2 separate regions of the Homo sapiens genome follow, and region 2 is linked to region 1. The links come from fine-mapping of genetic effects on gene expression. A gene starts in region 1. The other region holds a variant in brackets. All regions are shown on one strand. Distances are between the middles of the regions.

Region 1 (4,386 bases):
CTGCCAATCAAGGATATGGTCAATATCCATGGTCTTCCGGAACTCCATGTACTGAAAGGGAAATGAGTGGTAAGATCCCACTGGGCTCCCAGTGCCCTGAGAACAGGGATGGAAGGAGGGGCTTGAGGCATGGATTGCCCCTGACAAATCCCCTCCATAAATTTCCAGAGTGGATAGGTCTCACCTTGCGGAGCAAAGCCTCCGACTTCTGCAAGTCAAAATTCCGAGCTGTGGGAAAACAGAAGGAAGGTGTGAGACAGGAAAGATGCCTTGTCTTACTCCTGGCCAGTGGGAGCTATGGAGGACACTGGGGGCCTGGGTGAGACCTTGCTCCCCTACCCCCTTCCCTCCTCTGGACCTGAACATGTGAAGCAAGATTGTGTGGATGGACCCTGAGAGCCATGAGACACTCTGGAGCAGTTGAGACCAGGCCCCTCTTGATGCCCCCTGATCCCAACCTCTCCCACCTCTGCCCTCACCTCGGAGCCAGCGTAGAAGGAAATAATCATCAGGGTTGGGCAGGGCAGGAAGCACATCCTGGACGTTTTCTCGGAACTGGCAAGAGAGATGCTGGTTAAAGTGGCTCTCTCACATTGAGCCTTGGCCTCCAGACTCAAAGACTGTTTTCACAACCTCTCCTTTCCTCCCACATGCAAAATGGCCCACATTGATGAAAGGATGGGTTAATGGTTGAATAGAAGGGCAGATGGATCACTGGATAGGTGGATGAATGGAAGGAGGATAGATGGATGAATAAATGGTTAGAAAGAAGAATAGATGGGTGAGTGGGTAGGTAGATGGAAAAAGGGAGAAGAAATCAATGGATGAATGGATAGATGGATGGATGGAGAGTGGGTGGGTGGATAAATCAGTGAATGGACAGAGGAGAGATGGGTGGGTGATTGAGAGAAAGAAAGATGGATAGGTGGCTGCGTGGGTAGGAAGAGGGATGGGTGGATGAAAGAAAGGATAAACAGCCAGGTATGGTGGCTCACGCCTGTCATCCCAGCACTTTAGGAGGCTGAGGTTGGTGGATCACCTGAGGTCAGGAGTTTGAGACCAGCCTGGCCAACATGGTGAAAACTCATCTCTACTAAAAATACAAAAATTAGCCAGGTGTGGTGGCACATGCCTGTAATCCCAGCTACTCAGGAGGCTGAGGCAGGAGAATTGCTTGAACCTGGGAGACAGAGGCTGCAGTGAGCTGAGATCGCTCCACAGCACTCCAGCCTGGATGACAGAGACTCCATCTCAAAAAAAAGAAGAAAAAGAAGAAGAAAGGATAAATAATTGGGTGGATGAATAAGTGGATTGGAGTTTGGATGCATTCTTAGTTCCCTCCATGTGTTAGCCCTCAAAACATCTGCTTTTTTTCATCCCATCTTCTATTAAAACATGGTTAATAATTATATGTCCTCTTCTTCCTTTAGCTCTTTGAAAGACAACACTTTCTGCTCTGTCTCTTGGGCTTTTACAGACTGGTCATCTTTCAGGATCCCAAAGAGGAAGGGGTTAAAGGGCAGACCAGCAGCATCTTTCAGCTCCTACCTATGGTGCCTGGGAGGGAGGAACGGGGGTACCTGGCTGCCAGGTAAACCTCTCTGGTTCTGGCTCCTGGATGAGAAGAAGTCAGGCTTGACTTGGGTGGGCACCACCCACGTTATTGCCTGGAAGTGGTGCTAGTCCCTCAACCCCCGCCCGGGACAGGGTTGATGTTACTGGGCACCGTGGGGCTTGACCCTTTGGGAGGTAACACCAAAGAGACAATGTCAAGGACATGCTGAATCAACTGAGTGGGGCAGGATTCCAGCCACTTCTTTCCACCCCCCAGCCCCTTTCCCCTGGTCTTCCGGAACTCCAGGGGGAGGGGCTCTCACCTTGGCCAGGGTCTCTGCCTGTTTGGGGCTCAGGTCTCCAACTCGGCCGCTCATGGTGCTGGCTGGGGCTTGAGGAGTGGTGGCCACTATAGGCAAGAGGCCAAGCCTAGTTTGTCAGCCCTGACCCAGCTGGGTCCTTTTGCCCCCACTCCTGGGCGTGGCTCCAAGCGCCTCCTCATGGGCCAACTGTTTAAATTGCAGATTACATAATTGGGATTAAGTGAGGTCCCCTGCTTGGCTTGGGGACAGATCTGGAGGGGCAGGCGGGCATGGAGCGTGTGCCAGAGGTCCCCTGCCAGGAGGAGGCAGCTGGGAGGAAGGGAGGCTGGCCTCCCGTGACCTTGGAGCCCAGAGTGAGTGCCTGTAGAACCCGCTGACCCTCCCAGGCCTCCAGTGACCACTGCCCTGGAGAAGGGGGAGTTTCAGGAGAATGAGGACCGCTCCTTGTGGGTACCCTTTCTCCCTGAGCCCCAGTCTTCCCACACTTAGGATTCTGCAAAGATCACCCCCCTCTACCCAGCTCTGAAAGGGTAGGATTCTGAGGCTTGGTCAGTGTAGTAAACAGTTCATTCACTTTGTTGGGGGTGGGAGGCCCAGGTCCTTCTTTTGTGTCCACAGTCAAGAAGAGGACAGATGGCATCTTTTGAACGTCACTTGCTTCATTTATAAAATGGGGCCGTTAATGTTTGCCTTCCCCTCCTTATGTGGTTAGAGGGAAGATCTAATGAGACATAGGGACTGTCAAGGGTTGTGTGCATCTGAGGGATACTCTCCTTCAGCTCTCCTGGTCCCCCCTGGAGCTGTAAGCTTCAGCTCCAGGAAGGGAGAGACCCTGTTATCCATGACTCTCTCTGAAGAAACCATCAGCTTGAGGCTGCAGCATGGCCACATGGCCACATGGCCACATCTCAGCCTTGAGGGGGTCTGCATGGGCTGAAACCAACCCCGGGCTAGCCTCGGCCCCAGCAGCTGGGCTAGCCCACACCATTCTGCCTAGGGCTTTTCTAGGTCCCCTACTCCTGGGGCATCCTGGGTACCCACCCCTGAGCTACAGTGGGCCTCTATTCTGGGCTAACCCAGGGTCTCTTTAGGCTAGTAGATGTTGGTCAGTATCAGACATCTTCTCAGGGACATCTTCCTTGCTCTGGGCTCCTCACAGAGTTGGATCCAGAAGGAGAAGGCAGGGCTAATGCTGGCCATTTCCCTCTGCCTGGGGAGCCCGTGGCATGTACTCAGGAACAGTTAGGTAACTCTCCACACCCCAGCCCTGCCCCATTTCACATTCCAGCCTCAATTTCTGCAAAGCCCCAGCTGCTGTCTACACCCACTTCCTGCCAGGCCAGTAATGTACAGAGATTGGGTTCCTCCACTGCCCTTTCCCGAGCCACTAATCCTGCCCATTTCTCACCAGTCTCCTTTCTCACCCTAATCCCTATAATGTGAGGTGTGCTAGTTACTTCTAGGGGCATCGGAGACTGTGAAGGAGAGCCAGGAGGGAGGGTTGGGGGTCTCCTCAGGAGTTGTGAGCCTTCACACTGAGCTCTTTTCCTGACCCAGACCACAGATTTGTCAAGTACCTTGCTATGTTCACAAATCCTCATCAGCTACAGTGCCACTCCACAGAACTTCCTGTGATGGTAGACATCTTCTGTCTGGGGTGTCCTGTTAGACATATCTGGTAGCCACTAGTTACATGTGAAAGATGGTTAGCGTGACTGAGGAACTGAAGTTTTAATTGAATTGGATTTTGATACATTTTACTTTAAATTGTTCAATCTGGCTAGTGGTTACCATATTGGATGGTGCAGGTGGCCCATTTTTATTTTATTCTACTTTATTTTATTTTATTTTTGAGACAGGGTCTCACTCTGTTGCCCAGGCTGGAGTGCAGTGGCATGATCTCGGCTCACTACAGCCTCGACCTCCCCAGGCTCAATCAATCCTCCCCACCTCAACCCCCCGGAGTAGCCTGGACTGCAGGCACATTCCACCACGCCCTGCTAATTTCTTATATTTTTTGTAGAGATGGGGTCTCATTACATGCATTACCTCATTTTGGCCTGGTGAGGTGGCTCACACGTGTAAACCCAGCACTTTGGGAGGCCGAGGCAGGTGGATCACCTGAGGTCAGGAGTTCCAGACCAGCCTAGCCAACATGGCAAAACCGTGTCTGCTAAAAATACAAAAATTAGCCGGGCGTGATGGCGGATGCCTGTAATCCCAGTTACTCAGGAGGCTGAGGCAGGAGAATGGCCCGAACCTGGGAGGCGGAGGTTGCAGTGAGCCGAGATCATGCCACTGCACTCCAGCTTGGGGGACAGAGTGAGACTCCATCTCAAAAAAGAAAAAAGCAGTGCATTACCTCATTTAAACCTCAGAACATACCTGTGGTGTTGGGTAGGTACTATTACGCCCATTATGCAGATAAGCAAACTGAGGTATGGAGAAGTAACTTATCCAGGGGTAAACCCATGCAATTAACCACTCTGCCATTGTGCTGTTATGCTAT
Region 2 (4,386 bases), 39 kb before region 1:
CACATAGTAGGTGCTCACAGAAGGGGCTTTGAGGCACTCCCAGGCCAGGCTGATAGGGATGAGGTCGGTGGACATCCTGTCTGTAGGGGGAAACACCACCATCTCCACAACCCCCCAACATTTTACCCTGCTCCATTTATTATTATTATTATCATTTTGAGACTGAGTCTCGCTCTGTCACCCAGGCTGGAGTGCAGTGGCACAAACTTGTCTTACTGCAACCTCTGCCTCCCGGGTTCAAGCAGTTCTCCTGCCTCAGTGTCCCAAGTAGCTGGGACTAGAGGTGCATGCCACCATGTCCAGCTAATTTTTGTATTTTTAGTAGAGACGGGGTTTCACCATGTTGGCCAGGCTGGTCTTAAATTCCTGACCTCAACTGATCTGCCCACCTTAGCCTCCCAAAATGCGGGGATTGCAAGCGTGAGTCACTGTGCCCAGCTCCCTGCTCCATTCTGGAGATGCAGGGAATTAATTGAAGGTGGGGGATGCTGGGGGAGGTTTTTGGGCACCCTCTGCTGGCCATGTTCTCGCTGAGTCTGGTTCTCCGCCTGAGCTAGCCTGGGCTGGATTGCCAGGAGACAGCCTCCTGCAGGACTGTAATCAGACAGATGTCCTCCTGGCAGTGAGGAAGGAGCCCCAGGTGGATGCTTGCCACCTGTGCCTTGGCACCTGCCTGCCCTCCCCAGTCCCTGCCATACCTGGCTATGAGGTCTTCACTGCCCCATTCAAAGCTTATGGCTTCATCCAACTGGTGAGGGGGCTGTTGGAGGCTCACGAGGACAAGGCTGCCAAGAGCCAGGGAGTACCCGGGAGATTCGGGGGAGAAGAGCTGGGGTGTCTGGGCTGGAAAGAAGGGTAGAATCAGATCATACTGATTTGCAAGTCACAGCCTCTCCGAGTGTGAGTTTTTCTCTCAAAGATGCAGAGCCCTGTATCTCTGCAGAATTCAGTAGCTAAGGATTTGATGCAGATTTGCCATTTAGCATCTGTGTGTTTGTACGTGCCCTTTACGTGCATTTGTTTCTTGCATCCTCAACAGCCCCGTGAGGAGATAAAACCATCATTCCCATATTCCACATGAAGACACTGAGGCTCACAGAAGGGAAGACCCCACTGTCTACCACCAGATGCAACTCAGCACATCATTCTTCAAAGCAGAATTGGCTTTTTTTTTCCTTGAGACAGGGTCTCGCTCTGTTGCCCAGGCTGGAGTGCAGCGGTGCAATTATGGCTTACTGTAGTCTTTACCTCTCAGGCTCAAGTGATTCTCACATCTCAGCCTCCCAAGTAGCTGGGACCACAGGCGTGTGCCTGGATAATTTTTTGATTTTTTTTTTTTTTTTTTTTTTTTTGCAGAGACTAGATCTCGCTATGTTGCCTAGGCTGGTCTCCAGCTCCTGGGCTCAAGCGATCCTCCCACCTCGGCCTTCCAAAGTGCTGGGATTACAGGTGTGAGCCACCGAGCCCTGCCAGAATAGGCATTTAAGCAAGACAGGGACCTCGAATGAGGCCTAGCAGGAAATTGAGGCCCAGACAGGGCAAGTGACTTCAAGACCACCCAGTGAGGTGGGGGCCCAAGCTGGGAGTAGACCTTTCCTGCCTTTTCCCACCATCCTAAGGAGCAAGTATCCTCGCAGATCTCAGGAAAGATAGTGGAATTATTTGCTGACCTGGTCTATGCACCACCACCCAGTTCAGAGCAGCCCTGCAGTGCTGCCTCCCGCCATTGGGTCAGCAGTGTGGTCAAGGCGTGAGCAATGCCTAGCACCCCTAAGCCTGTCTAGGGCCCTGCCACCTGGAGGTCTGCAGGAAGAGGGAATGGTAGGTTGGATGGGGGCTGCCCCTCCAGAAAGGGGCCACCAGGCGCTGACCTCCTGGCCCCCACTTGGTGTGAGCCTGGGGCAGGGCTGGAAATGCTCACCTGGGGGTTGGAATTTGGAATTCCTGGCCTTTTCCCTCCTGTTCTTCCTCCTCATGGGCTGCCCTGGGGGACTTGGCATGGGCCTTTAGTGTTTGTTTTCTGGGCCCCCTCACATGCCAGAGTTGCAATGTTCCCCGCCCCCCCCTTATTTCCCTGCCAGCCCAGGAGCTCCCATCTCACCTCCCACCTCCTTGGTCACTGACTCTCTGGCTGCGTTTGGAAATCTGGACTTCAGCATGAGACTTTGGCCTGGTTCTTTGCCTCCCACAGGTGGGGGACATTGGCTGGGCTGAAGTAATGTCCCAAGAGGAAGGTCTTCTAGCTCAGGGACTCCTGTGCCTCCAGTTCTGGGCCAGGTTACCCCTGGAGAAATAAGGAAGTGAGGGAGGACCAGTAACAGAGTGTGAGGGCACTGGGCTTCTGGCCACCTGGCCCTAGCTTTTCCTGCTTC[T/C]CCTCTTGCTGTGTGGCCTCAGGCAAACCCTTCAGCATCTCTGGGTCTCGTGTCTTCCCCATCTTGGTTTCATTCCACCTCAGGGTGGGGCCATACTGGAGGATCCAGACCCCACCAACACCAGCACCATTTTCCTGGGCTCTGAGCTCCACATGGAGTTTGCTGTGGTTGGCAGCTCCCATTAGCCTTTACAGGTATATGTGGACGAGTGTGTGATCAGCCCCAGCCAGGATATGGAAGTGGCCCCTGCACACTACAGCCTTGTCAGGAATCATGGGTACTGAACCTGGAGGAGGAGGATAGGGTAGGATGGGTACAATTCAGTGGGTGATATCTCTGGGGAGGCTGGGACAGGGGCTGAGAGCCTTCCAGGGCTGGAAGGCACGGATGCCCAGATAGTGCTCCCTGGGCGTTCTTGAGTAGTCCTTTCTAGGCCAGGGGAGCAAGAATGCTTTACTGGCCCTTTCACCTCTGGAGCCTCTGTTTGCCCTTCTGTGAAATGGGGATAGTGCCAGAATCTTCAAAGCCTGCTGTGTAGACTGAATGGGGTGACGCTTAGCTCAGTGCTTGGCATGCAGAATTCTCAACAAATGATGGTGTATGGTGGTGTTGGGGCTAGGACCAGATCCCAGTTCAGGGGTCTGACCCTGATGACCTTCCAACCTGTGCCTTCCAGGTGCCTGGTGAACGGCAAGAACTTCCACTCCCACTTCGTGCCCCAAGAGGTCCCCAAGAGACTGGAGCTCTCCTTCCAGGCCTTCAGCTTTACTGGTACTCCTGCTGATGTGAGTGGAAACAGATAACCCCCTCCCCACTCTGCCACCCCGTAGGAACAGAGACCCAAGCTGAGGAATCTTTGGAAGTTACGGGGTGCACCACAAGCTGTTGCTCTGGAATCTAAAGGTCCCATCTGATGCTACCAAGAAGGCCTGTTCCTTCCACAGGGGCACTCATGGTGAGTCATGTTCACCAAAGGTGTACTGCATGCCTTACCCTGTAACTGGCATTTGAGGTACATGACCTCACTTAATTGTGTGGGAGGTGAGGAAACTGAGGCTCAAAATAGCTCAGATTGAATTTCTGCAATAGTTCCCCATGCTTGGCTGGACCACAAGCCCAACTGCTTTGGCCTAGAGTGGGCAGTGTGAGGTATACTGGGAATGGAGGCTTTGGACTGTGACCTAGACCCAGGTTCAAATCCCAGCTCCAGCTCTTGCTGGCTGTGACATCATGGGCAAGTCACTGACCTTTTGTTAGCCTCTGTTTCTTTGCTTGTTAAATGCAGGTCTGGTCCATGCCACCCCTAGCTCCCATCTCTGGTGCACTGACCACCTCCATCCCTCACCTCTAGGTAAGAACTTCTGGATGCCTCCCTGGGAGTATGAGTGACAGTTGTGAGATTACCTGCCTGGCCCCCTGATTACCCTATCAAAGGTCCTTGGCAGGTAGGAGGCCCCTGTTTTGGGTGTGGAGGGTGGAGGTAGGCTCTGAGGCAAGGGAGGCAGCTGGCCCGGGGAATCAGTCACAGCCTTGCATGAACAGGCTTATAGAAGACATCATCTTGCTACTAAAGGCCTCTGAGGAAACTGACACTGGCCTGGACCACAAAGACCCACTCAAGGTGCCCATTGATCAGAACCAAGGAGGGTCCTGGCTTCTGGATCCTGTCTGGAGAGGCTTCTACTGTGTGGGACCTTGGGCAAATCCTTTCCCTTTCTGGGCCTTGGTTTCCCCAAGTGCAAAATGAGAGCATTAGATTGGCCTGCCACTTTTGAGCCTCTCATGTAATCTTTATTAAACAGATATCTGGAGACCCCTTCACCTCCACCCACATAACCCTTGATATATGCCCTTCTGAGAGTTTCATAGAGGAGAGAGAAGGCTTGTAGTCACTCACACCATAGTATAAACAACATGTTATCTTTTCTGTCCTTGGAAAAAAAATAGCTTCATATTCTCTCAACTTTCAGTATCAGTAAACAAATAGTAGAAGGTCAGAAGTTTATAGCTGTGT

Direction of the effects. Positions count from the first base shown, and alleles are read on the strand shown. Sizes are in standard deviations (SD) of each study's normalised expression.
With allele T in place of C in region 2, the expression in esophagus mucosa of the gene that starts at base 1,990 in region 1 is higher (moderate effect, 0.43 SD a copy in GTEx).

The links. PIP is the estimated chance that this variant, and not a neighbour inherited with it, causes the effect. A credible set is the group of variants that fine-mapping cannot tell apart.
Region 2: its variant is the best candidate, but not a certain one, in a credible set for the expression of SEC14L3 in esophagus mucosa (GTEx, PIP 0.87).

The regions. Positions count from the first base shown.
Region 1 is chr22:30,470,028-30,474,413 of GRCh38, forward strand. It overlaps SEC14L3 (SEC14 like lipid binding 3), which reads right to left and starts at 1,990. Exons shown (of 12, transcript NM_174975.5): 1 at 1,878-1,990; 2 at 480-555; 3 at 185-228; 4 at 1-51. The coding sequence starts at 1,931.
Region 2 is chr22:30,430,569-30,434,954 of GRCh38, forward strand. It overlaps LOC105372990 (a long non-coding RNA gene), which reads left to right and starts at 2,118. Exons shown (of 4, transcript NR_148046.1): 1 at 2,118-2,676; 2 at 3,049-3,327; 3 at 3,724-3,817. The variant T/C (reference allele first, on the strand shown) is at 2,373.